Linked DNA regions of Homo sapiens: regions 2, 3, 4, 5 and 6 are each reported to be linked to region 1. The links are microRNA targets in miRTarBase. Many come from high-throughput screens and were not tested one by one. Region 1 holds a microRNA gene; each other region holds the end of a gene's coding sequence. Distances are from middle to middle.
The links. The annotated mature microRNA hsa-miR-484 reads UCAGGCUCAGUCCCCUCCCGAU and lies in region 1 at 3,378-3,399, shown strand. An mRNA with a match to its seed (bases 2 to 7 or 8) in the 3' UTR can be bound and repressed. Matches are read on the target gene's strand: a 7mer-m8 pairs with bases 2 to 8, a 7mer-A1 pairs with bases 2 to 7 and ends in A, and an 8mer does both.

Region 2: the mRNA of SETD1B is a reported target of hsa-miR-484. The part of its 3' UTR that is shown has no 7-base or 8-base seed match.
Region 3: the mRNA of MSTO1 is a reported target of hsa-miR-484. The part of its 3' UTR that is shown has no 7-base or 8-base seed match.
Region 4: the mRNA of UTP14C is a reported target of hsa-miR-484. Seed matches in the 3' UTR shown: 7mer-A1 at 3,517-3,523.
Region 5: the mRNA of GINS3 is a reported target of hsa-miR-484. Seed matches in the 3' UTR shown: 7mer-A1 at 909-915.
Region 6: the mRNA of CMPK1 is a reported target of hsa-miR-484. Seed matches in the 3' UTR shown: 7mer-m8 at 3,712-3,718.

The regions. Positions count from the first base shown.
Region 1 is chr16:15,639,924-15,645,012 of GRCh38, forward strand. It overlaps MIR484 (microRNA 484), which reads left to right and starts at 3,371; the gene lies at 3,371-3,449. MARF1 (meiosis regulator and mRNA stability factor 1) reads right to left here and starts at 3,231. Exons shown (of 27, transcript NM_014647.4): 1 at 3,095-3,231. It also overlaps a transcript of NDE1 not described here.
Region 2 is chr12:121,829,949-121,835,037 of GRCh38, reverse strand. SETD1B (SET domain containing 1B, histone lysine methyltransferase) reads right to left here. Exons shown (of 17, transcript NM_001353345.2): 17 at 2,382-4,972. The coding sequence ends at 4,799. Among named protein-coding and RNA genes, the nearest start is that of TIALD, 24 kb to the left of the region's middle.
Region 3 is chr1:155,613,460-155,618,459 of GRCh38, forward strand. MSTO1 (misato mitochondrial distribution and morphology regulator 1) reads left to right here. Exons shown (of 14, transcript NM_018116.4): 12 at 3-107; 13 at 198-307; 14 at 600-1,492. The coding sequence ends at 814. It also overlaps the pseudogene LOC100419798. Among named protein-coding and RNA genes, the nearest start is that of MSTO1, 5.7 kb to the left of the region's middle.
Region 4 is chr13:52,030,458-52,035,546 of GRCh38, reverse strand. It overlaps UTP14C (UTP14C small subunit processome component), which reads right to left. Exons shown (of 2, transcript NM_021645.6): 2 at 1,947-5,089. The coding sequence ends at 4,442. ALG11 (ALG11 alpha-1,2-mannosyltransferase) reads right to left here. Exons shown (of 4, transcript NM_001004127.3): 4 at 1,947-5,089. It overlaps NEK5 (NIMA related kinase 5), which reads left to right. Exons shown (of 24, transcript NM_001365552.1): 24 at 1-1,936. Among named protein-coding and RNA genes, the nearest start is that of UTP14C, 8.3 kb to the right of the region's middle.
Region 5 is chr16:58,404,300-58,409,388 of GRCh38, forward strand. GINS3 (GINS complex subunit 3) reads left to right here. Exons shown (of 3, transcript NM_022770.4): 3 at 200-1,848. The coding sequence ends at 430. Among named protein-coding and RNA genes, the nearest start is that of GINS3, 14 kb to the left of the region's middle.
Region 6 is chr1:47,376,014-47,381,102 of GRCh38, reverse strand. CMPK1 (cytidine/uridine monophosphate kinase 1) reads right to left here. Exons shown (of 6, transcript NM_016308.3): 6 at 2,264-4,399. The coding sequence ends at 4,358. It overlaps LINC01389 (long intergenic non-protein coding RNA 1389), which reads left to right. Exons shown (of 5, transcript NR_126355.1): 5 at 1-307. Among named protein-coding and RNA genes, the nearest start is that of FOXE3, 38 kb to the left of the region's middle.

The DNA of each region.
Region 1 (5,089 bases):
TTTCCTTTCCACATGTAACCATGTTTGAGAGAGGTAGCCATATCTTGGAAACTTGCATATTCCAGAGTGAGACTTCACCTCCTCACTTGGCTGGAATCAATTTTTTCTACAGTTTTTCTGAATTCTTTTCGGCTCTCTCTCCCTAAAGATGCTGCTCAGGAAAGTCAAAAGTTAACAGAAGAGAGCATCTAATCTGAGTAAAAGAGCCACCACCACATCCTCATTGACAACTATATGTAAGATTTTAAAATTGACTTAAGAGCAACTTCTTGCACTGGTTTCTTGATCTGAGCATGAAAAGTCCAAACTAAGTGGCCTCTGTGGACTTTGAATTTGATTTGCTACAGAACAAATTGAACCAATTTCTTAGTTTACTAATGATGAAAGTGCAATCTGATATACCACCAAAAATCTAACTGATAGAAAAATCTCAAGTCGCAGATGTGTTATATCTACGCCAGAGCAACAACACTCTTACAGGTCTTAACAATAAATGCAAGCGAGGCACCGTGGCTCAGGCCTGCAATCCCAGCACTTTGGGAGGCCAAGGTGGGTGGATTGCTTGAGCCCAGGAGTTCCCAACCAGCCTGGGCAACATGGCAAAACCCCATGGCTACAAAAAATTAGCTGAGCGTGGTGGTGCATGCCTGTAGCCCCATCTACTCAGGAGGCTATGGTGGAAGAATCACCTAAGACTGCGTAGTCAAGGCTGCAGTGAGCTGTGATTGCACCACTGCACTGCAGCCTGGGCGACGGAGTGAGACCCTGTCTCAAAAACCAACAAACAAAATTACATGAAATTAAAATGTCAGTGTCCATAAATAAAGTTTAATTGGGACACAGACACACTCATTCACTTAAATACTGCCTATGACTGCTTTTGCATTCCAATTGCAGAGTTGCAAAGAGAGTCTCTGCAAAGAGACTGTATGGCCCACAAAGCCTATATTTACTACGTGGCTCTTTTGTCAGCCTGGGCAATATAGCAAGATCACAGCTCTAAAATAAAATAAAGTTCAAAAAATTAGCATAGTGTGGCAGCATGCGCCTAGTCCCAGCTACTAGAGAGACTGAGGTAGGAGGATCTCTTGAGCCCAAGAATTTGAGGCTACAGTGAACTATATTGTGCCACTGGCCCTTCAGCGTGGGCAACAGAGTGAGATTCCATCTCTAAAAAAATTTTTGTTTTCAAGTTTCTGTTTCCTCCTATGCAAAATGTGGCTAATTTCTCCCCGCCACTGCATTACAGAGAAAAAAAAAATTAGATAAATGAACCCCACTGTCTATTTTCACCACTGTATCTCTTGTGCCAACCAAAATGCTCCCTACTCTGTAAATACAAAGTAAACATTACCTACTACACACTATTGGGAGTGGTTAATTTGGAGATGGATTTAACTGCTACCACTGATAGTAAATTACGATTCTTGTCTTTCCTATTAGATACAGGTTTTATGTCCCCCAAAAAACTCCTCTCAAAATCGTAAGAATCTGTGATATTCACAGTGTTCATAACTTAAACATTCTCTCAAACTTCTTCAAAGCCAAATCCTGAAAGTGAGCTAACATTCACAGTATAATCTAGTTTATAAAGTATTTTCACTTAACATTACTTATGTCTTCATTCAGCAAATATTTACTTAGTATCTACTATGCAGCAGGCCTGTGCTTGGCACAAGGAATATAATGATGAAAAAAACCCAGACGGTGGGATCCTCTTATATAATTTTTGCAATAATCCTGTGAAATAGACAGGGGAGAAATTAGCTACATTTTTGCAGAGAGAGAAAAAGAAACTTAATGAAGTTTTGTAGCGAGCCTGACACAAGATTAGGCTTGTTCACCCCTTTCCACTACATCAAGGTGCCTTCAATACTGCTCAATACAAGCGATTAAAAGTAAAAACTTTCAGGTGCCTGCACCCTGAAAACTTCCCAAATACCATCCACGAAGCAACTTAGGTAGCCAAAAGCAGGTTCTGTTTGACTTGAGCGACAGTCTCCTTTCTGTCACTCTCTTCAAGTCTTTTGACCAATTCAATGAGGAGAGCATAGGCTCTGTCGACTGTCTGCATTTTGGTCTCCAATTTGACTGCGGTGCAGCTTTGGACAACTCACAACCTCTCTGAACCTCAGATCCCATCTCTAAAATGGGTGTGATAATAATAGAAACCACCTTACAAGGCCGTTGTTTGGATTACATGAGGTAATCCACGGGGAACATTTAGCAAATGTTGTTTCCTTAGCACCCAATCTAGTCTTTGACCCCACACCACCCCATCCCATTACCGTTTTCTCCCCCATAGCTCTTCTGTCCAAAACGGCCTTTTTAGCTTATTTTATTATCTTTCTCCCCCATTAGGCTATAAACTCCATGACAGCAGAGACTATGTTTTCTTATCCACTATTCCAACTCCTGTCCTTAGTACAATGCCTGGCATATTTTAATAAATAACTGTTGAACGAATAAAGCTTAATAAATAGGAAAACAGTTTAGGTTTCAATACACCGATATGCAAAAGAGAAGAATATTTACCGCTCAGAGAAGTCCAAAAGACACAAATGCAATTGGACAGCTCTTGGTAATACCGGAAAGGTGCTTGAGAAACTCTAAAAGGTGTATCACGAGGTCGCGTTACAACTACTAGTGAGAGTGGCTGAAGCCCTAGACATTGTCAACCCTGAGACTACACCCTATGTGTTGCTAAAAGGCCGAGGAGAATGCAAAACGGCCGGGGAGGGGGGAGTGTGTTGCAAAAACACCCGCCCCTTTCCTTCTCTCTTAACCTTCCAGCTGTGCACTTCACTCCTGGAGGGCCCCACCAGGGGTCAGACAGGGGCGGGCGGGGAGCCAAATGCCCTCGAAGGGGAACAGCGGCGCCAACAGTGACAGTAGTGAATGGACCCGAAAGGGAGACAAGCCAACTCTTTCGTGGGGGGCCCAACTGGCGCGTCCCAGTTAGCTAACCTCCCCTCTCCACCACCATCCCACCAGCAATAGGCGGGGAAAGAGGGGACACTGTCCTCCGTCCCGCCCCGCTGGCCTCGGAGCAGAGCCTGCCGGGGTCTGGTCGCAGGACTGTCTGCAAACTCACCTCTGCCGCCGGCTCCACCTCCGCTCACATTCCGGCCCCGCCGCCTTCCCCCCGCCCCCCCCAGGCCCTTTGTTTTGATTCCCGACTCCGCAGCTCCCGCCGCCGCCGCCAAGCGCACCCTTCACTTCCGCTTCCGCACCGCACCGCCCCTGTCGCAAAACCGACGCCCTTCTCTCCTCTTCGCCCCGCCCCTTCCTCGCCCCGCCTCCGCCGCCGCGTCCTGTCCGCGCGGGGCATGCTGGGAACCCCGGGGGGGGCGGGGCCTCGCGGCCCTGCAGCCTCGTCAGGCTCAGTCCCCTCCCGATAAACCCCTAAATAGGGACTTTCCCGGGGGGTGACCCTGGCTTTTTTGGCGAAAACCCCCAGTTTAAGGAGGCCTTCCCCCTGGCTTCACGTTGTGGAGTCGAAAGGAACCTTGAAGCGGAGAATGAGCTCGTGACGTGGACCCGAGGAAAAAACCTGCCAACCAGGATTTAATAGAATTCAGCTCTTTCAGGCTTTGGAGGGAAGGCGATTTGAACGGGATTTCAATGAAAAACCCTGTCCCTTCGGCTTTTTTTTTTTCCTCTCTCGGGTCTCGTCACGTGATGGTCCTACTTTATTTTTAAAAATTAAATGGCGCATATTCCCCAGCATCCTAAATCTAGTGCAACCTAGTGGCAAGTGGAGAAAAAAATAACTGCCAACCTGGCTTCCTACGAGGTCCCCCGGAGTTCTCGCAAAGTTGCGACCCAGTTGGCAAAAATACAGTGTGTGCAAAGACTCAACTGGACATTGCCACCAAGAATCAAGAGATTTTTGGGGACTTTAGCAAGAAAACGTTATTTTTAAAAGCCCTGCTCCAAAGCTGGTTACAAATGAATACTGCGTTTCCAGTGACAGGTTGGGCGAGCAGAAAGGAAATCTTACGGTTAGTTTCAAACACTTTGTGTTTTAGGTGGCCAGATATGCTGTGTGGTTTGCTTTAAAAAAAAAAATAGCGCCCCACAATCTTCACGTTTCCCTGGAATAAAAAAAAATTTAAGACTCAGCAAAAGGGTGATTTCTGAAACTACCAGCTGATTACTATTTTCTGTTGCAAATTAGGAAAAAAGCAAAGCACATATTGTGTAAGTTAAATCTAGACACGATTTAGGATGTGCTAGCTGCTAGCTAAATGCTACCTTAGGAGTTTATTTTTAAAGTTTGCCCAGAAACAAGTTGACTTTGCAAAAGAATCAGTAAGTCGAAATTGCCAAACGAGAATATTTTGCCCAAAAAAATCCTTACTGGGAGGTTATTTCAATAGGCAATCCCCATTACGTGGGGATTAACACATCCCTGTAAACATCCCTGTAGACGGGTATTGTGGAGGGCAGGATCAGACATGTAGCTGAAGAATCCTTTGTGCCTGTATTTAATTTTCCAGAAGGCAGATGACAAGCACACATCCTCTCCCTGCGTAGGTATTTATTACTGCTGACTAAATCTTGACTGTGGGCTGGGCGCAGTGGCTCAGGCCTGTATTCCCAATACTTTGAGAGGCTACGGAGGGAGGATCTCTTGAGCCTACAAATTTGAGACTAGACTGGGAAACGGTGAAACCCTATCACTATTTAGAAAAGAAAGAAAAAGAAAAAAATCTTCATTATGTCTGTGTATAGGTAGTATTTTCCAAGTGGAGATTAGAATAGATGAAAAACCCGTTTCTAGCGTTTTGGCTTTTTTCAAAGTACCAAACAAATACGCTACTCTTCAGAGGTGTTTTTTCCCCATTTTATTTCAGTTGAGTATGTTTCAACACAAGCCATATTAACTAAAAATCTTAAGAAACAAGGTAATTGTAGGTTTCTAATTGCTTTTTTTAAAAAATAGTTTTTAGCCAGAAAACATCAAAGAATGCAGACACATTTCCTTTTTACTTTTTTTTTTTTTTTTTTTGAGACAAAGTCTTGCTTCATTGCCCAGGCTGGAGTGCAGTGGCAGGATCTTGGCTCACTGCAGCCTCCACCTCCC
Region 2 (5,089 bases), not on the chromosome of region 1:
AAAGAAAAAAGAAAGAAAGAAAGAAAGAAAGAAAGAAAGAAAGAAAGAAAAGAAAGAAAGAAAAAGCCCTGGCGCGGTGGCTTACACCTATAATCCCAGCACTTTGGGAGGCCGAGGAGGGCACATCCCCTGAGGTCAGGAGTTCGAGACCAGCATGCTTAACATGGAGAAATCCCATCTCTACTAAAAATACAAAATTAGCTGGGCTTGGTGGCACATGCCTGTAATCCTAGTAATCCCTGTAATCCCTACTCAGGAAGCTGAGGCAGGAGAATTGCTTGAACTCGGCAGGTGGAGGTTGCAGTGAGCCGAGATTGTACCATTGCACTCTAGCCTGGGCAACAAGAGCAAAACTCTGTCTCAAGAAAAAAAAAAAGAAAAGAAATTTTTAAAATTAGCTGGTATGGTAAAGTGTGCCTATGGCCCTGATCAGCTTAGGAGGTTGAAGTGGGGGGATCATTGAGCTCAGCAGATCGAGGCTGCAGTGAGCTATGATCATGCCACTGCACTCCAGCCTGGGTGACAGAACTAGACCTTGTCTCTAAAATAAATAATAAAGGTAAAATTGTATATTCCTTCAGCTACACCCCCTTCTCTTAGCTTTATTCCTCCTTACTATTGCACTTACTTTTCACATTTGTCTGGCTCGCCCTCAAGAACAGTATGTTTCCTTCATTCCTATCCCCAGAGCCTAGAAGAGTACCTGGCACATACAAGGTGCTCAATAAATATTGGTTGATTGAATTAATGGCCAGACACTTCCTTCTCTTTCCTGGCTCAGCCCGGACCTCAGCCCTCTATTCCCATGAATCCACTTACGGGAGTGTCCACCTGTCTGGATGCACAATTCCTAAAAGCAGCCCACTGTGAACGGACAATTTACTCTCCCTTCGTTTCGTTGATACCAGAAATGAGGCTGCGAAGAACACTCTTCTTCATATTGTTGCCCACTGTATCTGTCAGGCTCAATTCCTCACAGTGGAACAACGGAGCCAAGACTTTTGTGTGCATTTGATCATTTTATTTTGAGACGAGGTCTCACTCTGTCGCCCAGGCTGGAGTGCAGTGGCATGATCTCGGCTCCCTGCAACCTCCACCTTCTGGGTTCAAGCGATTCTCCCACCTCAGCCTCCCAAGTATCTGGGATTACAGGCGTGCACCACCACACTCGGCTAATTTTTTTGTATTTTTAATAGAGATGGGGTTTTACCATGTTGGCTAGGCTAGCTCGAACTCCTGACCTCAGGTGATCTGCCCTCCTAGGCCTCCCAAAGTGCTGGGATCACAGGCGTGAGCCACCGTGCCGGCCGTGTGCATTTTAAATAATGATTACTAATAGGTATTTTTCCTCCTAAAGGTTGCAGTGATTTTTGGCTTCCCCTAATGACACACGAGAGTACCCCAGCCTCCTGCTCCCTCAAATTGGGTTTCCTCCACCTTTTAATATTTGCCAACCTGACAGGGGGAAACGGCATCCTGGGATAATTCACATTTCTCCAGTAGGAAGTGACGTACAGCGTCTTTTCAGGCATATTGCTTTTTGCTAAGGTTTTACGTCTTCTTGGAGACATTTACCGTGGACGCCAACTATAAGCCCTTTATCACCCGTCTACTGGGTCAAGCAGAGCTGAGACTGACTGGGGCACAGCATCTCTGAAATGCCATGAATACAGGATAGATTTAATTCTTCTCAACTTCTACTATTTTATCAGCCCTTTTTCCTCCCTCAAATGCAGACCAGGGGGGCATCTCCTTAAGTGTTAAACATTTCTGAGGAACCACCTACGTTCTTCTAGTGATAGTAAAAGGATACCTGATCTTATTTCCTTCATTGCAGACCTCATGAGTCAGAAACCTGAGGTTTTAAGAAAAAAATCTAGAAATCACACTTAAAAGCTGTGGAAGGTCTAGTGGTGACTATAATTTGGCCCATTTCACAAAACCCACCTACAAGTTCAGGCTGGGCACGGTGGCTCACATCTGTAATCCCACTACTTTGGGAGGCTGAGGTGGGAGGATTGCTTGAGCCCAGGAGTTTGAAACCAGCCTGGGCAACATAGGGAGACCCCGTCTCTACAGAAAAATTTCTTAAAAATTAGCTGGGCATGGTGGTGTGCTCCTGTAGTCCCAGCTACTCAGGAGGCTGAGGTGGGAGGATCACTTGAGCCCAGGAAGTCAAGGCTGCAGTGAGCCATGATTGCACCACTGCACTCCAGCCTGAGGTGACAGAGTGAGACCCTGTCTCAAAAACAAACAAAAAAACCCCTGCTGATCTGAGTGTCTGAGTGGACCACTCCACCCTCCACAGAAGCAGGATGTGCTCCCAACAGAAAGAAAGAATAAAGAGGAGAGGGAGAGAGGAGAGCAAGAGAGACGGCGTATCTGTAAGAAAAGTCAGTATATTTATGGTTTGCTTTATAAAAGTTACTATAATACAATGGTACATAGTATTGAATTCACAAAAATATGAACAAATATTTACATCAAGACACACAACGGAAACACTTCTCTTCAAAACAAGTTACATATGGATGATGGAGTCTACCCGCACAAACATCCCTAAAACTCATTGGTTCTCATCTTTGCAGGGGGAGGGAGAGAAAGCAAAAAATAGCAGAAACCCCCAACTCTTGAAAAGCAGAGATTTGTTCAATGAAAAATGAGGGAGTTGAAAGAAAAATGACTCGACACATATCTTGATTATTGCAAACCACTCTGGGGCTGGGGCTCCTGGGGAGAGGGAGGTCTAGTCCCCTTAGTGAAGGCCAGCCGAGGTTAACACTGGGCACGATGGCTGGGAGCAAGGTGAGGCCAGGGGGAGGGGTGAGGCAAGGGTCCCTTCCCTGGTCTTCTCGAACACCCCCACTTCTTTTATGGGAAGGGGACAGAATGGAGACAGCCCTTTGGAGGCTGTACATGTAACTTGAATCAGCCGTCTCTACAAGCTACGCATTTCCTCATGTGAAAAATAAATTATTTCCTCAGTTGCACAATTAGGCAGAAAACCGCAAACGGAAGAGAAGTTCGCCGCTGTGCCCAGGTACCCCATCTGTGTCTTGTTGCCACCAATTTCCTTGATCTTGAAACCGGCGGGCACAGTCTCAAATAGAGAGGGCCTGGGGGAAAGGAATAAAAAAAAAACAACAAAAAACACACAACAAAACCACCAACAACAAAAAAGAGAAAAATAACAATTCTTTGTACAGAATTTACATGATAACAAGCTTGACACAAGCTGAGATACCAGAGGCTCCGGCCGCCTGCGTCCGCAGGGTGGGAGCAGCTCCCTCATGGAGCGCGCTCATCTTGATGAGGACTCCGGGTCACAACAGTCACTTTCCAGAAATTATTTACACGCCTCCTCTGCTTTCTGGGGTACGGGGGGACTTGCTTTTGTCTTTTTTTTCCTTTTTTTTTGGAAGTACAAAGAAATGAGCAAAAAATGTCTTCCCGCATGTTTCTACAAGAAACAATGTTCCCAAGAGAAAGTCCTTTGCGGCAGCCTCTATATACAGAAGTTGGTTCTGAACTTCAAAAACCTTTTTCCCCTTCCTTTTGATTTTATACACGCACAAGAAAAAAAAAAGCCATGGGAATAAATTCTGAAGAGATGGGAAGGGGGTCAAAAGGGAAAAAAAAACCGTCAAGGCTTAGATTTGTGTTTTTAAATCTTTTCCAAGATTTTCCTTTCTCTGGGAGAAGTAATCTGCTCCCTCCGAAAATAAATATGCTCTGGCCTTCTTAGGTTGAGGGGCTGCCGGCAGGGGGATGTGGGGTGTGGGTTGGGGGTGAGTGGGTGAAGCTTATAAGCCAAAAAATGCCACACGCAGACGGTCTGACAACCCGTAATGGCGGGACTGGGGGACCCGCCTGCCCTTGGGAGCCCTGTCCCACCCAGGGCGAAGGCAAGGGCAGAAGAGAGTGGCTGCCCGCGTTCTCAGCGCCCCTCACCTGCACTGGGGCCTCCGAGAGGCTCCCGCGTTGCTGGCATCCGAATGAGAAAGTAAACATTGAACCCAAGGTTTAGGGGGTGCTGGGGTGTGAGGTGGCAGGGAAAGCCCAGAGCGGAGACCCCTGCCTGGGACAGCTTAGCTCCATCAGGGTCCACCGGGTCAGTGGTGCCCCAGGCCTCTGGGGAAGGAACAGGCTGCAGCTCGGGTGGGGAAAGGTGTGGGGTCTCCTCACTGTGCCCACGGGCAGTGAGGGGCGCTTTCAGGGCGTAGTGTTCTGAGGTCAAGGCCGTGGGGGCCTCCATCCTTCCCACAGCACCTGGCCCTGCGTCCAGGTCCGGGTGGCTTCCAGGACACGGGCCACGCACAGCCACACTGAGGCCTCTGCAGACCCCCGCGGGGCCCCTCTCTGATTCCACCTTCACATTTCAACGGTTAAATGTCTTTTCTCACAACGAGGAAAAAAATAGAGAAGACAAAACAACGTAGCAGCATTCACAGGAAGAGGCCGAGGGTGATGGTGGGAGAGAGAAGAGACAGAGAAGAGAGAGAGGGGAGGAGAGACGGAGAGAGAGAAGCTGATGCTGGAGTTAAACAGAAATCCTGAAAGGGGCGTTTGTTAAAATGAGAGAGACGTGGGCTGAACGACAGAGAAGCCCTTTCCCGCGGAGGGGCCGGAGCCAGGGGCTCCAGGGGGTAGTGTGGGGCGCCAGGCCCTGAATGGCCGCTGGGTAGAGGACAGCACCTGAAATGGGGGCGGGCGCGGGGGGCCGGGCCCCGGGGCCAGGGGCTCCACGCTCGGGAGTCCCAGGGCTACGGCTGACATCCTTTGAGTCTGGTGCCGGGGCCTAGTTGAGGGTCCCCCGGCAGTTCTCGGAGCCACAGAGGCAGGGGATCTTGACGTCCTCGATGGGGAACTTATAGTCATAGGTAATCTCCTCATTGACGTTAATGTGCTGCTTCGAGTAGATGACTATCTTCTTCTGTGACTCCACCGTGATCACCTTGGCATAGCAGTTGGGCTGCAGGCAAGGTGGGGGGGAGAATGAGCCCCTGGTCCCCCAGGGTCCCCCACCACTGCAGACCCCCCAAACCCAACCAGGCCTGTGCTTAAGGCCTGACATGCCACGTGACCCCCA
Region 3 (5,000 bases), not on the chromosome of region 1:
AGCCAGCTCACCCCAGGGACACCTCCACCCTCTGCCCTTCATGCATGTACCACTGGGGAAGAAATCTTGGCTCAGTATTTACAACAGCAGCAGCCTGGAGTCATGAGGTCAGTGTAACGGTTGCTCCTGCCCTTCTTGCCAACCGCAACCCTCCCTTGACTTCTTACGCACTTAATGGCTGTTCTCTGCCCCCACAGTTCTTCCCATCTGCTGCTGACTCCCTGCAGGGTGGCTCCTCCTTACCCCCACCTCTTCTCAAGCTGCAGTCCACCGGGTATGGTTCTGGATGGTTCCCCCAAGGGAGCAGGTATGTAGGAGGTGAAGAAAACTGAGATTTCAAGTATGGGAGAGTTTTTACTATCTCCATTCCTGGATTAAAAGTGCTGAAAAAGTCCACAGTTAAACATTCCTTTATTCACCCTATGGCTCCCAAGAAAAGCATTCTTCCTCTGGAGTACTGGTGTACTAAGGGGACAATACACCAAATTTGTTGAGTTTACAATCAAGTCTACTAAGGTTGGACTTCCTTATCAGTTTGGCAGAGTCCCAGGGCAGAATAATCATCCATCTACAGGTCTCTGTTTCCTCTCCCTCCACAGCAGTGGAGAGCATCCCAGTGTTTGGGGCACTGTGTTCCTCTTCGTCCCTGCACCAGACCCTGGAAGCCTTGGCCAGAGACCTCACCAAACTCGACTTGCGGCGCTGGGCCAGCTTCATGGATGCTGGAGTGGAGCACGATGACGTAGCAGAGCTGCTGCAGGAGCTACAAAGCCTGGCCCAGTGCTACCAGGGTGGTGACAGCCTCGTGGACTAAAGTTCCCAGTGTGGGAGAAAGGAGCTAGTTTGCAATAAAAACAGCTGGATGCAGGAGCCCAGTGTCTTCATGCAGAGGAGCTCAATGTCGCGGGACTAGCTACACCAACATATGCACTTTTTACATTTAGAAACACTGTGATTAGACCACAGAACAATAAATATGTGCCATCAGACCAAAAAAAAGTAGAGAAAGGAGCTGAACTCCACTCTCGATGCTACTTACAGAGGACATCTGTAAAGTCTTCATAAAAGACCTTGAATGATGCCTAGGATGGCAGAGCCCCTGGGTCCTACTCCATCCTCCAGCCTTTGTCCTTGTCCTGGCCTCCTGCTCTCCAGATCTGTAAACTGGGCTCAAGGACTGTACAAGCAGAGTACAACTACCCGCCTCCCCGGTGCCAGGGCGCCTGTTGGGTTTGGTCCTGTGTAGATGATTCCCAGAGTCTCATTCATCCAGCTCCTCTTCAGACAGAAGGTCCCCATGGTCAGACAGCTGGTCTGCATTGCTGGTACTGGTTGCATCATCCTCATCCTCAGAGCTGGCTTCACAGGCAGTGTGGAAGAGCTGCATGAGTTCTCGAAAATGGTGGGAAACCTAAGAAAGGAGGAGGGCTGTATTCACTGATCCTTAGTAACATGTTAACATTTATGAAGCACTATATATTGATTTGCAAAATCTTTTGTTTATTCCACACAGCAAGGTTGAGAGAGCTATGTCACTATAGATAAGGAAACTCAAGAGGCTAAATGTTTTGCCCAAAGTCACACGACTCCTAAAAACAAAACTAGAATGGCCGGGCACAGTGGCTCACACCTGTAATCCCAGCACTTTGGGAGGCCGAGGCAGGTAGATCACTTGAGGTCAGGAGTTCGAGACCAGCCTGGCCAACATGGTGAAGCCCTATCTCTACTAAAAATAGAAAAATTGGCTGGGTGGTGGGCACCTGTAATCCCAGCCACTCGAGAGGCTGAGGCAGGAGAATTGCTTGAACCTGGGACGTGGAGGTTGCAGTGAGCCACGATCATGCCACTGCACTCCAGCCTGGGCGACAGAGCAAGACTCTGGCTCAAAAAAAAAAAAAAAGCTAGAATGGAAACGGGCTTCCACCTAAAAATGCAGTGTCCTTTCTCTTCTCCTAGAACCACTACCACCCTGATGAGTCAAGCCTTTCCTTAGATCAAACCTTTACAAAAACCACTTATCTTGGATATGAAAACTCCTTCTTTGGCCTTTCTGTCTCTTAGTTGGCCACCTTGACCTCTTTTTGCCAGGTCTTCACCCCAACCCGCACCTACCTCAGCAGGGGTCTTATTTCCCAGCTGCTGGGAGATGATGCTGAAGGTCTGTGGCTGTGCCCCTTGCTCCTGGCACATGGTGAGGATCACACGGTCAGCTTCCCTGTAACCCAGGTATCATGATTAACCCTAGGGAGCCACATGGATGTGGTCTATGCTCTTTTCCAAACACACATCATCCACCCTTACCTACCTTGTCCACAGGACAACCTTTTCCCCAGTGGAGCTGACCTTGCTGTTATTGGCACACACCGTAGCTTCTGTGGCCTTTGGCTGCTGTTCCCCCTCTGGACCCTTGCCCTGTGTTCCACTGTCTTTAGCCAAACCCCCTCTAGGGGCTTTGGGAGAAGTCTCTGAGGTGTCAATTCCTGATGGAGATTCATGGACAGGGCACGTCCTGTCTCTTGTCTTCACCCTAGCTCTGCTTGAGGGCAGCCATCTCTCTTGAGTGTCTGGTTTCCCGGACACATGTCTTCTCCCTGCATCTCTGGTCTTTGAGGAAACAGGACTCAGGAAGGAAGCAGGGGGTTCCACGGTACCAGGCAATTTCTCAGTTTCTGATGCATCCCAGACCAGCATCAAAGCCTCTGACTCACTCACTGCCTTTTGGCCCTCCCTCTCTTTCTGAAGTCTGGGGGATGCCTTGGGGCAGGAGCGAACCTCAGGCCCAACCTGGTTTCTCTTAACAGTGTACAGTACAGCTCCAGTTGTGGGGGGAAATTGAGGAGTCTCTGGTGAATGAGGTGGTGGGCCATCCAGGAGGAGCCGTTCTGTAAGAGTCACTTCTCGAGGGGATGGCAAAGTGCCCCCCACTGCCAATCCTGCTTAGGAGGAAAATAAGGATCCCAGGGTACTGTGAGGATCAAGATGCACCTAAGCACGAGAAATTACCTGTGGCCAGGTACTGTGCAAAAATTCTAATAAAAAAGAGTGCTGGGCATGGTGGCTCACACCTATAACGTCCGCACTTTGGGAAGCCAAAGTGGTGGGACTGCCAGGAGTTTGAGACTAGCCTGGGCAATATGGTGAGACCCCATCTCTGCAAGAAAATATAAATAATAAAGGAGTTGGGTGGAGATGGTGGGCATAATGTCACTTATGCAAAGATATAAAGTCCTACTGCCAAAGCTGAGAACGGCCCAGTCTTTAGGATGTAGATTACACTAGATTTAGAGATGGGGGAAGGGTTTTAGGAATAAAACACAAGACAATGTTGAATCATGTGAAATTTGTAGCACTTTTTTTTTTTTTTTTGAGAGATTTTTGGTCTTGTTGCCCAGGCTGGAGTACAGTAGCGTGATCTCAGGTCATGGCAACCTCCGCCTCCGGGGTTCAAGGGATTCTCCTGCCTCAGCCTCCCAAGTAGGTGGGATTATAGGTGCCCACCACCGGGCCCAGCTATTTTTTTTTTTTTTTGTATTTTTAATAGAGATGGGGTTTCACCATGTTGGCCAGGCTGGTCTTGAATTCCTGACCTCAGGTGATCCACCCACCTCGGCCTCCCAAAGTGTTGGGATTACAGGCGTGAGCCACTGCGCCCGGCCACACACTCTTAATTCTGCAAGAGGAGTGAGGCCATAGGATAGAAAAAGCCTGAACAGGAGAAGGGCTTCTTATGGGTCCATCAGTGAAAGAGGTGGTATGTCCATCCCTGAAAAGGGTGTTATTTATCCAGGCTCATGGAGGTTCCTGTCTGGGGTATAGAAGAACGAGACTGAAAAACAGAAGGGCTGGGTTGGCAGATCACTCACCTGAAATAGGCATCTCTCTTTCTGGTGGTCCTGACAGTCCTGTTCTGGGTGGCTTCATGGGGCTCCTTGCTCTTGTAGGATTTGCTGTCACAGACCCACAGGGATGATCTTCTGGGTCAAAGGTGTCCTGACCGCCTATGCCTTTGGGGCCCACCAAAGGAAGAAGCCCTGCCTGATGCTCACCAAGTCAACCCACATGCATATCTGCTCCAACAATTTTGTTTTTTTAAGAGAAAGGGTTTCAGTTGGGTGCAATGGTACATGCCTGTAAACCCAGCTACTTGGGAGGCTGAGGTGTGAGGATCACTTGAGCCCAAGGGTTCAAGATCAGCCTGGGCAACATAGCGAGACCCTGTCTCAAAAAGAAACAAACAAAAAGAGGCCAGGTGTGGTGGCTTACACCTGTAATCCCAGTACTTTGGAGGCCGAGGGCAGGGATCACTTGAGGTCAGGAGTTCCAGATTAGCCTAGTGAACATGGTGAAACCCCATCTCTACTAAAAATACAAAAATTAGCGGAATGTTGTGGCGGGGGCCTGTAGTCTCAGCTACTTGGGAAGCTGAGGCATGAGAATTGCTTGAACCCAGGAGGCAGAGGTTACAGTGAGCTGAGATTGTGCCACTACACTCCAGGCTGGACGAAAGTGAGACTCCACCTCAAAAAAAAAAAAAAAAAGAGACAAGGTCTCACAGATAACACAAATTATCTTGCCCAGGTTGGAGTGCAGTGCCTGTTTACACAGGTATGACCATAGTGGTACACTATAGCCTCAGACTCCTGGGCTCAAGTAGTGATCTTCTGGTGTGAGCCTCCTGAGTGCCCCTTTGCCTAGCTACTGCTCCAAAGATTTTATTTTGTTTTATTTATTTATGTATTTATTTATATATTTATTTTTTTAGCTGGAGTTTCGCTCATGTTGCACAGGCTGGAGTGCAACGGTGCGATCTCCACTCACCGCAACCTCTGCCTCCCAGGTTCAAGCGATTCTCCTGCCTCAGCCTCCCGAGTAGCTGGGATTACAGGCATGCACCACCATGCCCAGCTAATTTTGTATTTTTAATAGAGACAGGGTTTCTCCATGTTGTTCAGGCTGGTCTCCAACTCCCAACCTCAGGTGATCTGCCTCCCAAAGTGTTC
Region 4 (5,089 bases), not on the chromosome of region 1:
TTGAACATGGCCTGGAGCTTAACAGATGTTTATTTAAATACTAAGGAGTATGTCTGGGCTTAGGAAGGAGAGGGTGGTTACATTTCAGGGTGGTAGAATTCTGCCTGAAATATCTGCTTTATAATAAAAGTAAAATGTCTCACCGATACACTGTTAAACTGAGAAAACAAAGATGAGGTAAGGTGGGTCAGATTATTTCTAAGGTCTGTTTACTATTTACATTTCATATAATTTTCATTAAATGTGGAGAATGCAAGTCTTAGGAGTCACCTGAGGTACATCCAGTTTTTTGTGACTATTTCCTGATGTTTGACAGACTGTTCTTTCAACTTGGTGTAGAGTTACAGTCTACTCTTTTAGGGAGAATGCTGTTTGTTCACATCATGAGGCTGTAAATATTTAAAATGTTCTCACCATTGTGTTAGTTTCCAACTGACACATGGCCTGAGAGATTGGAGTATCATTAATTCTGCAACTCTTTTAGTGCTCCGGATGTGCATGTTTATTTACTTTCAGGACTAGTTCAGACATAGTAAAACTGCTAGTGACTTCATGTAATCCTTATTCTGAACTGTATTTGAAAGCAAGGGAAATGAAACATGATCCCTAATAACCTCAAACATCCAAAGATCAAGTCAATTAAGGGCAAAAAAAAAAAAAAAAAAGAAAAAAAAGAATGTTTAAGGATGGTAAATGAACACGCCAGGTGTGGTGGCGCATGCCTGTAATCCCAACACTTTGAGAGGCTGAGGCAGGAGGATCGCTTGAGCCCAGGAGTTTGAGACCAGCCTGGGCAACATAGGGAAACACCCATCTCTATCCACCCCTCAGAAAAAAAAAAAAAAAAAAAAGAATTAGCTGGTGTGTTGGTGTGCACCTCTGGTCCCAGCTCTTCAGGAGGCTGAGGCGGGAGGATCACTTTAGTTTCAGCCTGGGAGGTTGAGGCTACAGTGAGCCATAATCCGTGATCACATCACTGCACTCCACCTTGAGTGACAGAGTAAGAAAGACCCTGTCTCAAAAAAAAAAAAAAAAAAAAAAAGCATGTCAGGTTATCGGGTTTGTTCCCATGATAAAAGATGCTTGGCTAAAGTCTAGTCTATTTTAGGTAATAGTCACCAAGCTTTACTCAACAATTTTGAATTCTTTGCTGTAAACTGGAAGTATTCACTGTGATAAGTATACATATCTGCAACACTTTCAGCTGATTTTAGTCCCTAATTCTAGACCTTACCCATTTTACACACACTATTAGCTAAATCGTGTTCCTGAGGCATGGCTCTGATTACTTTACTCTGGCTTTAGCCTTGGCCTCATCCGTTAAATTGAAACTGTTCACCAGACCTGTATGCATTAAAAATTTTTTTATTAGAAAAATCAGTGTCTTGCTAGCCATGTATGATAGCTATCAAATTGATCATTCTGTAAATGGTAGCAATAAGTGTATCAACACTTTGACCTCCTCTGTGTCTAGTAACATTTGCATATAGTACAACTGAGCACATAGCACCAGAATATTGGAACAGATGCTTCTCCAAAGCCAAGGGTTGCCTTACATTTAGAGTGGGAAAAGAGGAAAATGAGTTAGCAGAGGAGCAGCGGGGAGGGGGGTAAATTACAGGACATAATTTGCTTCTAAAAATTTGTGTTTCGTGTTGTAGTTATATAATTAACTTTTCTATTGTACTGATTGACAGATTTGGCACAGACATCCTCTCATTGTGAATATATATGAATATATCAGAGTTTTGGACTCTGGGGTATATTTACATAAACACAAGTATTCTGAAAGCATTGATAACCACACTGGTGTCTCTTAATTTTGTCTATAAGATGACCTTATAAAATCCCTCAAGAATTATTTAAATCAAGTGTACGAAGCTCTGCAGTTTTTTGTTATGTCTGAAATATTCATTAAAAAGTTTATTAAACCTGACAGCCTCTTCTTAATGTTTCACAAGCAAGACAAACTTTTATTTTTGTTTCTTCTTTAATTGGCATATGGAGCTTGGGAATATTAGTAGGAGAACAAGGAGACTATGTGAGGCATATAAAAGGCACCACACTGGAAAGAATCCAAGAGAATGAAAAATCACTTCTTTAAATAATATTTAGACACAGACTTTGTATCTATATTAGATATAAATCATGTCTAAATACAAATCTAAATAATATTTACAAATAATTATTACACAAAACCTATGTAACACACACTTTATAGTACACAACTGTAAATAAGAATACAAATCTCCACTGCTGTGGGTTCAAAACAGCAGGCTTGGACCACTCAAAAATGACATCTGAGAGGAATTAATAGTCATCCTGAAAGTTCTGCAGACAGACGCTAGCGGACAAACCACTTTGACACTTTTCATGCTATCATTCAGAAAAAAATAGAATACATGTAATACCAAATTAGGAACACTGATAATGAACATATATGCAAATTATATCTTCCAATGATATATCTGTGATATATGAAAATAATTTTGAAGAAATAAGCTTAAAATATAATTTACGGAATTCCAGAAAACTTTTTCTTCCTTCACTACATCCTCAGGAATAAGGCAATTGAGTGGATAACAGTTTGAATCTTACTTCAAAGTGTAGCTACAAAGTAAGAAAAAGCACTGGGCCAGGAGTCAGAATATCCAGGTTATAATCTTGATTCTTTCATGAAACAGCTTTGTGACACTGAAGGAATCTACTAAATTCTTTAGATTTAAATTGTTCTTGTCTGTAAAGCTGAAAATAAGAGAGAACTGGGCTAATCTGTAGGGTTCCTTTCACTCCAATTTCTACCAGTCTTTTTCTAAATGGGATCATCTCTAACAAAAAGTTACAATGGTGTGTCAGAACATCCTGTGACTGACCCTCTGTTTGCTGCTTTTTGATCTGATGACAGATGGCTTGGAGATGTATCAACAACATAATTGGGAGTAGATAAGCTGGCCACATTGATGAATGACTGAGAGGAGACTGCAAAGAAATAATATACCGTTTCATTTGCCCCTTAACACAAAGATGAATCAGCCTGTGGATGGGGTCAATTCACTGAACTAGAAAGGATTGATTATATATGCATAAAGTGCAAAAGCTATAGGTCTTTATAGCCATATCTGCTCACACATATATTCACTTTTCCATGCTAGTTATTCAGGATAGAAGGTGCATTAAATTTATACCAATTCCTAGCTACTGGCCTAGTAACTAACAATCTACAGAGTTGTAATGCATTAATAAATATAGGATTATAGAAGACATTTAGTATGTGATGTTACCTTTAAGTAACTCTCATAATTTTCTTTTTCCTTTTTTTCTTTTTTGAGATGGAGTTTTGCTTATTGCCCAGGCTAGAGTGCAGTGGCACAATCTTGGCTCACTGCAACCTCTGCCTTCCAGTTTCAAGCAATTCTCCTGCCTCAGTCTCCCAAGTAGCTGGGATTACAGGTGCCTGCCACCAGGCCCAGCTAATTTTTTTGTATTTTTAGTACAGACAGGGTTTCACCATGTTGTTCAGGCTGGTCTCAACTGCTGACCTCATGATCCACCCATCTCGGCCTCCCAAAGTGCTGGGATTACAGGTGTGAGACACCGCACCCAGCCCTTAACTGTCGTAATTTTCAAAGTAGTTTCATCTACTTTCCATCTCATTCCAACTCTAAAAGGTAGTAAGGACTGGAATTAACAACTCCAGATTACAGATGAAGAATCTGAGACTCAGAAAGATAAAGGAGCAGCTTTAGTGTCAAAAGGTCAGAAGTTTGTAAATGAAGAAGCTGAAGGTAGGCCCAGATGTGCTAACTGCTTGCCCAGCGCTCTTTCAAAATGCCACCTTGCCATCTTACAATGCATTATGCTGGTAATAGATACCCTGTGGATGTATCTGTATATCATATCATCACTGTCAGAAAAACAGCCTGAGGTTCTCTTGAATGACTTAAAGCTGACTTCCAGGCTGAGATGCGGCACTGTTAAGGGACAATGAGAGACCCACACAAATGTGCTGACAGCATAAACAAAAACAATTTTCACCAGTACCTAGTATGGAAAGGATTGCTGGCAGCACCTTGGCCTCTACCACCCTACACACACCTATAAAGCATCAGTCAGTCCCACCTCTTGACTGTATGCTTTGAGAACACGATTAAACAAGTCTGTTTAAAATTTCTTTTTTAAGGAAATCATTAGGTATATTCAAAAGGGTCATCCACTGTATTGTTTAGAATTTAAATGTACTAGAATTTTTCTGTGTTCTAATGTCTGATCAATTCTAAAATGCTAGTCAATTAATGGTCATCCATTTTCTTTTTTTAAAAAATGTGGCTCAACTACATGCAATGTGCTGAGCCAGTTTTGGAATCCACCCTGTAGCAGAGTAAAACTGGACCAAAGGAAGTGGAATCAGGGCCCCTGACTGTCACTTCTCCAGCTACACAACCTACAGTTTTTCTTCTTTATTGTGACGTGTGGTGATTCGTTTTGGATTCCTCTGTATGACAGGCAGGTCTGACCTTGAGGAAGACTGGTAGCCCACATCCTCTGCTTTTATGGGCTTAATGATATGGCCTGGCTTGGTGACGACCTTGGGAGTAGTCAGCTTTTGGAAAGCCCTCTGGGTGTTCCATGTGGATCCTATAGGGGTCTGGATGGTCCTTTCAAATTGCCGATGGTGGGTAAATGGATATGGAAGCACTTGTACCTGATGAGCTGCTGCGTGGATGTTGCGCTTCTCACTGATAATCACATTTGGCAAATTCTTATCTTTTCTTGGAGGACCCTCAGGGGCTTTAATGAGAAACTGGCGTCTTTTCTTGGCACTGGGCTTTAGGCCCACACCACCCCACTCGCCCCAGCCAGGTAGTGTCAGGTCCACGTCCTTTGGCTTACTCGCCTCCACAGCTTCCCTCTTCTCTTTCAAGAAATCTCTGATGACATCATCCCCAGCAAAAGCTTCCTTTATCATCTGCCTTTGGTCTCTCTCCTCTTCATCTTCCAGCTCCTCTATTATTGTGGGAACTGCCAAAGACCTCACGGAAGGAGACTGTGTGGTCAGGAAGTTCTGTAGGTTGATCAGTTGCTCCTTCTC
Region 5 (5,089 bases), 43 Mb from region 1:
ATCCACTTCACAGATGAGGAAATTGAGGCATGGCAATGTGCAATAACTTACTTGGGTGCTAGAGGGAATTCAGACCTCCTTCTGAGTCCTACACATCATTCTTTCTTTTCATGCCATTTAAATGTTCTGAGATAAAAATGGATATGACTTTGTGGGGTGTGAGGTCAACCCTGACTTGTCTTACTCCCTTGTTTCCCAGACTTTTATCGGACGTTTTCGCCGCATCATGGACTCCTCACAGAATGCTTACAACGAAGACACTTCAGCCCTGGTAGCCAGGCTAGACGAGATGGAGAGGGGCTTATTTCAAACAGGGCAGAAAGGACTGAATGACTTTCAGTGTTGGGAGAAGGGGCAGGCTTCTCAGATCACAGCTTCCAACCTCGTTCAGAATTACAAGAAGAGAAAATTCACTGATATGGAAGACTGAAAGCCGGAAGAACACAGAATGGCTCCTCACAGACGTATCCCTCCGTGTGTCCTTGATAGGAGCTGGTTGACCTTGTACAGAACCAGAATCCTGTCCCATTTCATGGCTTATTTCCTGTGGCCATAGAGAATTATAGGGAACTGGACATGCTGGAGGATGTGGGTGTCCCTGGCTCTGTGAGTCTTCCAGGACCGTCCCACCCTGCTGACCCACAGCCCAGGCCCTTTAACCCAAGAACCCATGGCCAAGGAGAAATCAAAGTCCTTCCTAAATAAGAATCACTGCCATATAATATATCACAGTAGAGTTGCAACTGAGATTCCTTGTGTCTGGGAGTTTGGACAGCTTCAGATGTACAGTTTCACTAGCCACAAAGCACAGGTACAAACTGGGTCATCGCCTGTTCACAAAATGCTCTCTTGATCTTATTTGCCTCATCTTCCTCATGGTTGTACAGAGGATAGCACCCCACCATGCCAGCCTGACTTGGAGATATCTCCTGCTGCCTGCCTGCAGGGAGTTACCCCAGTTTCCAAAAACAGTCGCCCAGATAAAGGAGGAAAAGGGAAAGGCAGACGAATGGCATGGCTTTTACTAAAGAAAAGATGTTGGCCTCATACTCTATACTCAGGGCTTAATGAACTGGAATCTGCATAACTCAGCAGTCAACCCAGAAGGGAAATGGTTAAACTGAGCTTGTTATTGCCTCGGAGAGCCTAAGAGCACCCGCACACTTAATTCTACTCCCTGTCTAGAAAAGCTGTCAGGGAGTCGTTTGGAATTGCAATGTAGTTATTAAGGGCTGTTAACCAGCCTGCATTACATCTGGAAGTCAGGACTTGGGTGCTGACTATGAAGGGCCCTGTTTTCAAAATCTAACATTGCAAGTGTAAATGGGCAAGAAGCCTCCGTTGTGCTTTTTTTTTCCTCTTCAGTAACTTTTGCAACATTATTGCATAGAAGATCCCTGACCATTTACTAGGAACCTGGTTAAGCAAGCACTAATCTCTTTTCCTGGAGATCAAGGATGCAACCTCAGGTTGAGAAAGAAACAGGGTTCCCTGGGCCCATTAGACTGTTTGCAGGGCATCACTGCTTCCCCCTGACACCTCACAACTAGCAAAAATTGTCTTTGTCTTTGGAAATTATAGAGGGATTTGGGTATCCAGATTGTGCAGATGCAAACTTAGGCTGTCTTGATGCAAACTTAGAACCACAGAAATGCTTTTAAAATGCCTGTTTTAAGATGGAATTGTTGTTTTTATAATTTGATTTTAGTGCTAAATAAATGATTGGCTTTGTACATGAATATGTTCTGTACAAGTGCTCTTTCACTAGTACTACAGATAATCAAAGCTATCAGAATTGTGTCTTTGATCATATTTGACGGTAATACACAAATCCATGTTTTAGCAGCTGCTCTTTTGCTTGTGTGGTACACATAAATAGGAGGTACATTCTCTGTAGGAGGGTGCTGTGTCCTAGGAAGATGAGATTTCCATTACTACCGCAGCATTTATATATAGCCAGGGCCCGAGAAACCATTCATAGAGCGAGAAAAGCATATTATTTAACTTTTGGCATCATTCTTTTCACACATAGCTTTATATTTAAAGTCAACTCTAAGTCTGCTGCCATTTTTTCCTACTTCCTAAAAAAAAGAAATTCCTCAGGGGCCATGTGTCAGGAATATGTAGGTATTCATGTCCAAAACTTAGCCCCTATTTTACATTTTGAACAGATTATATTACATGTAGCTTTTGAACTCATTTTCAATTACAGATCTGCCTTCAAGCCTGTCGGACTTCCCCTCTCCCCAGCAGCCCTCCAGTTAGTCGTTTAGATTTTGATTTGGTCCCTTCAAGAGGTTAATTTTTCAAAAAACACAACAAATGGGCTCAAATACCAAATTGCTATCAAACTCCAGGGAGTAAAGCTGTGCCCTTTCCCCTGAAGCACTCTGTTCCCACATGACTGTGGCCTTACAGACAGAAGACCTCAGTATATATAGGTTTTTCCCAGGGACAGTGTGGGCTGCCAGGAGCAGTGGGGCAAGGCTCTGTCACTGTTGATTCCTCCTGCTGTTCGTGACCTCTGGATTTGGGTGGCTCTGGGCTGTCCATGCCTCTCCATCTCCACGCAGATGGCTCCCAAATTCCTATCTCCAGCTCAGATCGCTCCCTCCAACTCCAGACTTGTATCCAATCCCCTGCTTGATGTTTCTACGTCTCCACGGCCTGCTCCTCCTCTGATGTTTCCCATCTCCATTTTTTACAACTCCATCCTTCCCTATTGCTTAGAACAAAAACGCTATGTCCCCCCCTGACCTTCCTCCTCTCACGCTCCATATCTTTTGGGTCTGCCGTCAAATCATTTGCAGCATCCGGCCACCTCCCCATCACCTGTGGTGCTGTCACTCGGGCCAGGCCCCTACCGTTTCTTTCCTGGAGTTTTGGGATCACCCCCTAACTGCCTCCCTGCATTCACCCTCCACTCCATCTTCAGACTCTTCTCACCATAGCAGCCAGAGTGCTCTTGTTAAGAAGTATATCCAATCTTGTCGATTCTCTGCTCAAGACCCTCCCATCTCAGAGAAAAAGGATAGTCAGTTATCCCAGCACACTTTGTTAAAAACTAATCTTTGGGCCCGGTGCGGTGGCTCATGCCTGTAATCCCAGCACTTCGGGAGGTCGAGGCAGGTGGATAACTTGAGGTCAGAAGTTTGAGACCAGAAGGGCCAACAGTGAAACCTGTCTCTACTGGAAATACAAAAATTAACCAGGCATGATGGTGGGCGCCTGTAATCCCAGCTACTCGGGAGGCTGAGGCAGGAAATCACTTGAACCCAGGGGACAGAGGTTGCAGTGAGCTGAGATCACACCTCTGCACTCCAGCCTTGGTGACAGAGCAAGACTCTGTCTCAAAAAAAAAAAAAAAAAGTCATCTTTACCCTGCTAATCTGATGTTGAATTTCTTTATTGCTTGCATGGCAGAAATAATTTGTTTCTTATTTTAAATAAAAAGTCCACCTTCTCCCTAAGAATTCTGAGCATCTTACAGAGCTTCTCACTAACCTCTCAGCACCTCTGAACCCGAGGTTTCTGGAATACTGTGCCTGAACTAGTGAAACCGGCATGCAGAAGCACTGAGTGACTCAAGTTCAAACAGCAGTCAGTTCCACTCTGTGTCTGTCTGTTCTGTCCCCCTCCCATCCTTCAAGAAACCCCAAGAGAGCTTTTTTTTTTTTTTTTTGAGATGGAGTCGCTCTGTGGCCCAGGCTGGAGTGCAGTGGCGCGATCTCGGCTCACTGCAAGCTCCGCCTCACAGGTTCACGCCATTCTCCTGCCTCAGCCTCCCGAGTAGCTGGGACTACAGGCGCCCGCCACCCCACCCTGCTAATTTTTTGTATTTTTAGTGGAGACGGGGTTTCACCGTGTTAGCCAGGATGGTCCCGATCTCCTGACCTCGTGATCCACCCGCCTCGGCCTCCCAAAGTGCTGGGATTACAGGCGTGAGCCACCGCGCCCGGCCCCAAGAGAGCTTTTGTTCTTTATGCTCGAAACAATTGTGTCTACGTGAAAATGTAATATTTTAAACTGAGCTTGGCAAAAGAAAATAACTGCAGAGGCCATATATATATTTCTCAAACAGATATTTTTGTGTTCAGGAGAAAAATCTATAAAATGTAAGGTAGATGCTTAACTGTAAGAATTTTTTTTTTTTTTTTTTTTTTTTTTTTTTTTTTGAGACAGAGCTTGCTCTGTCACCAAGGCTGGAGTGCAGGGGCGCGATCCCAGCTCACTGCAACTTCTGCCTCCGGGTTCAAGCAGTTCTCCTGCTTCAGCCTCCTGAGTAGCTGGGATTACAGGTGTGTGCCACCACGTCCAGCTAATTTTTGTATTTTTAATAGAGACAAGGTTTCACCATGTTAGCCAGGATGGTCTCGATCTCCTGACCTCGTAATCCACCCGCCTCGGCCTCCCAAAGTGCTGGGATTACAGGCATGAGCCACCACACCAGGCCAACTGTAAGAACTAGTCTAAGAAATATAATTTAAACATTCCTTATCTAGTGAAGGCAGATTTTTAGGTCATTTTATTTTATTTTTGAGACAAGGTCTCACTTTGCCACCCAAGCTGGAGTGCAGTGGCCCAATCACAGCTCACTGCAGCCTTGACCTCCCAGGCTTAAACAATCCTCCCACCTCAGCCCCCCAAGTAACTGGGATTACAGGCATGTGCCACCATGCCTGGCTAATTTTTGTATTTTTTGTAGAGACGAGGTCTCAGTATGTAGTCCAGTCTGGTCTCAAACTCCTGAGCTCAATCAGTCCACCTGCCTTGTCGTCCCAGAGTGCTCGGATTACAGGCATGAGCCACTGTGCCTGGCCGATAAATTTTTAATATTGAGTACACATAGAAACAGTTGTTTGAAAGATAATTAAGTAAATGTTCTAAACCTAAGGAAAGGTATCTGAAAGCTGGAATTCTGTTGCTAAATCTGTGTGTGTGTGTGTGTGTGTGTGTGTGTGTGTGTGTGTGTGTGTGTTTTGCTAACTCTTGATATTATCCTTTTGAATGAGGAGGAGAAAATTTCTCATCCTTAATAGTAACAAATAAAATGTACAGTGAATCAAGGACAAGTCTGGAAAAATGTAGA
Region 6 (5,089 bases), not on the chromosome of region 1:
AACCTAAGAGAAGCAGGTTCTGCTCTGATGAACTCCCATAAAGGCATTCCCATAAAGGTGTGGGCCTGAGTGATAATCTAGATATGGTACAGTTGACATCAGGTATATGGCGGCAGCCAGAAATTCAACTTTGTCCATCAGCTCTCTGCACAACAGGAAAGATGGTGACCTTCCAGGCTTATCTGAGGTCCAAGAGTAACATCACAAACACAGTAACTACACCCAGCCAAAGAAAAGCATACCTGAATCCAAGAGAGTATTTACACTGGCTTCAGGGATGAGGAAATAAAGGAGTAAGTGATTAGGATCATTGTTTTCCTTTCTCTTTGGTACAAAATAAATGAGCTTCCTTTCTTTCATTAAAAATAAATGTTTAGGCCGGGCGCGGTGGCTCACGCCTGTAATCCCAGCACTTTGGGAAGCCGAGGCGGACGGATCACGAGGTCAGGAGATCGAGACCATCCTGGCTAACACGGTGAAACCCTGACTCTACTAAAAATACAAAAAATTAGCCGGGCGTGGTGGCGGGCGCCTGTAGTCCCAGCTAGTCGGGGGGCTGAGGCAGGAGAATGGCGTGAACCCGGGAGGCGGAGGTTGCAATGAGCCGAAATCGCGCCACTGCCCTCCAGCCTGGGCGACAGAGCGAGACTCCGTCTCAAAAAAAATAAAAAATAAGAAATAAATAAATGTGTATAATTAACGAATACTTAATTTAGCTGAAGTATGCAGGTGGGCTAGGGAGAACTGAAATAGAAAACATAAGAATGATTAAAGTTAACCAACAGAAGACACTGGAAGGTCGGTCTATATCAGAATGTTTTCGGAAAAAAAAAAAAAAAAAAAAAAAAAAAACACCTCCTGGAAGGCAGAAAATATATTTTTTTGTTTTGTTTTTTTTGTTTGTTTGAGACGGAGTCTCGCTCTGTCGCCCAGGCTGGTGTGCAGTGGCGCAGTCTCAGCTCACTGCAAGCTCCGCCCACGGGTTCACGCCATTCTCCTGCCTCAGCCTCCTGAGTAGCTGGGACTACAGGCGCCCACCACCATGCCCAGCTACTTTTTTGTAATTTTAGTAGAGACAGGGTTTCACCATGTTGGTCAGGCTGGTCTCAAACTCCTGACCTCATGATCCACCCGCCTCGGCCTCCCAAAGTGCTGGGGATTACAGGCATGAGCCACCGCGCCCGGCCAGAAAAAGTGTTTGTAGCACTATTTGCTTGTGCAATTAGTATGTGTTTGAAGATGACAACCAAACCTCCGGGGAGAAGATGCTGACCTCATCTGGCCAGTACTTTCAGCCACTATTATCTCCAGGGACCACTGGAATGTTTGTGAACCACTTAAATTACAAGAGTAAAGCCAAAAGTCCACAAAAAGCCCACATCCTGATATACATTGCTTACTGTCATCTTCCCCCAAAAGAGATAAGTGATTGATGCTGCTGGTAGGTAATGAAATAGACTGCTTTTGTCTCAGTGGAGATTACTTCTTGAAGGAACGGGATAAAATCATGCTTTCTGCTTAAGCCAAAACACAAAAACAGGATGAAAAATTTTCCTCAATCCTGTAAAGCAAAAATAAAATTCTAAGCGCCCCCACAACCATCTGAATGGACCCTTCCTCTAGGCCAAGGGCATTCCAGAGTTCATCTGAAAAACCAGTTTCAGGCCATCATGGGGAAGGGAGAGCCAGACATGCCTCATTATACTTCTCCTCCCTTTTGAAATTACTGATAGAACACACTCTTAATAAGAAGCATTTACAGTCTATTTTCTCTGAAGCCTGCTACCTGAAGGCTTCATCTGCATGATAAAACCTTGGTCTCCAACAAACCTTGTATCAACCTAGACGTTCCTTTCTATTTATAGTAACTCTTTCAACCAATTGCCAATCAGAAAATCTTTAAATCTGCCTAAGGCTTGGAAGCTTTCCCCACACCTGCTTCCAGTTGTCCCACCTTTCTGGACTGAACCATGTATACATCTTACATGTATTGTCTGATGTCTCATGTCTCCCTAAAATGTATAAAAACAAGCTGCACACCGACCACTGTATGCACTTGTTCTCAGGATCTCCTAAGGGCTGTGTCACAAGCCACTCATCACTCATATTTGGCTTAGAATAAATCTCTTCAAATATTTTACAGAGTTTGACTCTTTGCATCGACAGTCCTGAACTCTGCTTTTGTAGTGTGAGGACCCACATGTTAAATAGGATACTTCTTGATCTTCAATATGCTTAGAGAACAGAAATCTAAACCAACAAATAGCAAAGGCCACAGCACAAAATTTATTGAGATTATTTACTAAATAACTGATATACATCCAACATCACTGAATGGAAATAATTTAAAAATAAGCAAGGCTTAAATTGGGGTCTTTCAAAAAACTCAAAACATTCTTGGTGACTGTATCTTTAACAAATGGAATGACAAAACTAGTTAAGTCATATTATCTCAATCAACTCCAAAACTCAATGTTGCCAACATGTTTTTCTACTTAAAAGCAAACAAAAAGCAAAGCCTCATAATTTAGTAATTACCATGTTTCTTGGTTTCTGTTCTCAAATGCCACAGAAAGATACCTGATGAAAGGAAGCAAAGCACCTAGTCTCATCAGTCTTCTTCAAAACTTTAAGGTTGCTTTCACAATCTCACTATAAATATTTAGATTCCTATCTGACAGATTTCTTCACTTATGTGAGTAGGAATGCTCTCGAAACCTTAGTCTTTACTCTTGCTTCATACTAGAGCTGTTTGATTAAACCACCTCTGTATTTGCTGGCCTGCAACACTAGATAAGAACTCATTCCTATCTCTTCCAAGAAACCAAGATAATCTCAATATGAATTTTAGTGGCCAATATGTTATAGTACTTAGCAATACTTTGTTTTCTAATGGCAAGTATGTTGAAAAATTTATCATTAAGTGAATTTCATAACACATAGAAATAAATGATTCTATTAAAATATAAAAACATCCATTAACTTGTCCTATTTCCAGTGACTTTAAATATCAAATCTATTATACAAAGACAAAATTATTTGCCCTATTTGACCCTGTGTACCAAATGATGTAAGTGCTGAAAATAAGAAACATTTTAAGATTTTAAATCTCATATTAAGAACCTCGGATACCACTTAGCATTGTGACAGAAGAAAAAAAAGTAAGGCGAAAACAAATTCCTCAGAGATTTTTAAAGGAAGAATTGGTGTAAAAGAATATTCCTTTGGACTCTATAGCCTTTTAAAAATCATTTATCTTTCGGTGCTTCAACATGATGCCAAACAAAAATCTACTGAATAAAAATAGCAAGGAAGGGAATCAAACATTTATAAGATATATTTATTATTTTTCTGACCAAAGTGCAATGATTTTTAAATCTTTTTAAACAAATAACTATGAAAAAAGTATTCAAGAAAATAAAATACAAATGGGAAATTTAACTAGATTGCTTCTTCTAATTAATCCTAAGCTTTTATTAAGTCTAGAAAACAAACAAAAAAAAACCTTTGAAGTGTTACTAAAATGCTAACTGAGAATCATTTTAGCATAAATCTAGCCACATGCATTTCAAGGTTCCACTGCTACGAATTTTGTTAAGATCAGCTGAATCATGAATAACACTATATAATAGAGTATAAGGAACACAAGCATTAGATGTGATCCTTGCCCCATACCCTTAGATTATGTCAGACTAAAGCTGACAATTCTGCCAGGCTCTGAACCCCTAGTGCCCCCAACCCAAATCTTGGAAGCAAAGAATATGCCCTGTCATACAACTTTGTACAAGTTGTAGTAAAACAAAGCTTAAGTTTTCTCATCTTTCTACAGCAAATGGTCAGTTATTTAATAAACACTAAAATGCTCCTAAGAATCCATTTTGAGTTTGTTTACCAAACACATTGTGCAAGAACTGACTACACAAAAAGTTCCTTTGAAATTTGGTCCACAAATTCACTTAAGGTTGGAAATTTAAAACTTGCAAGAAAAAGAGGAAGCGGGTATCCCTAAATCCTAAAATGTTGTGATTACTAGAGGGATATATACGCGTACTAAAAAGTTTTGCTCACAGAAGGCACAAACTATAAAAGGGATATTCTTTTTGAATTTTAAAAAAAATAGCTGATACCCTTCGTTTGGTGAGCACCATAACTAAGGTGAAGTTAAACCTGAATTCACTGTCTACTCCTGTGACCAAAAAAAAGAACATAAAAAAATTTACTTTGTTTTACCATGTACTTTCCAGCCACTAATTGAGATGTAGTTATGAAAGATTAGAATTGCCTTAAAAAGGGGTCATGATAGCAGCTATCAAAGCAATATTCAAGCATGATTTCAAGGATGCCTTCAGGTTTAGAATTAGCCTTCCTTGTCAAAAATCTGCACAACTTCATCAAAAACCTGTAAAGGAAAAAGATGATAATAATTTTAAAAGCAGGTACTGTTAAAATACCATACAGCTAAGTTCTTATTAAAAATAATCAAATTTGGCGGGGCGCGGTGGCTCACATCTGTAATCCCAGCACTTTGGGAGGTCGAGGCGGGCAGATCACTTGAGTTCAGGAGTTCAAGACCAGCCTGGCCAACATGGCAAAACCCCGTCTCTACTAAAAATACAAAAATCAGCCAGGCGTGGTGGCGGGCACCTGTAATCCCAGCTACCCAGGAGGCTGAGGCAGGAGAATTACTTGAACCCAGGAGACGGAGGTTGCAGTGAGCTGAGATCACACCATTGCACTCCAGCCTGGGCAACAGAGTGAGACACTGTCTCAAAAAATATATATAAATAAAATAATATAAAAAATAAAGACTCCATCTCCAAACAGGGTCACACACAAAAAAATCAAATTTACATTAATTTTCAAAATGAATCATTTTTTTGAATCACATACTTAGTTTCATCTATTTTACTTTAGACAGTAATATTATATAAATAATACATATAAAATTATGACTATATTACATTCGATTAGTGCTTTTAGGACAAAATATTCTTGAGAGGCTACCAATAATTTGATAAAATATAAACTGTAAATAAAATGTAAAATAAAATATAAAATATAACTGAAGTGGCTTATCTTCTTAGTTCTG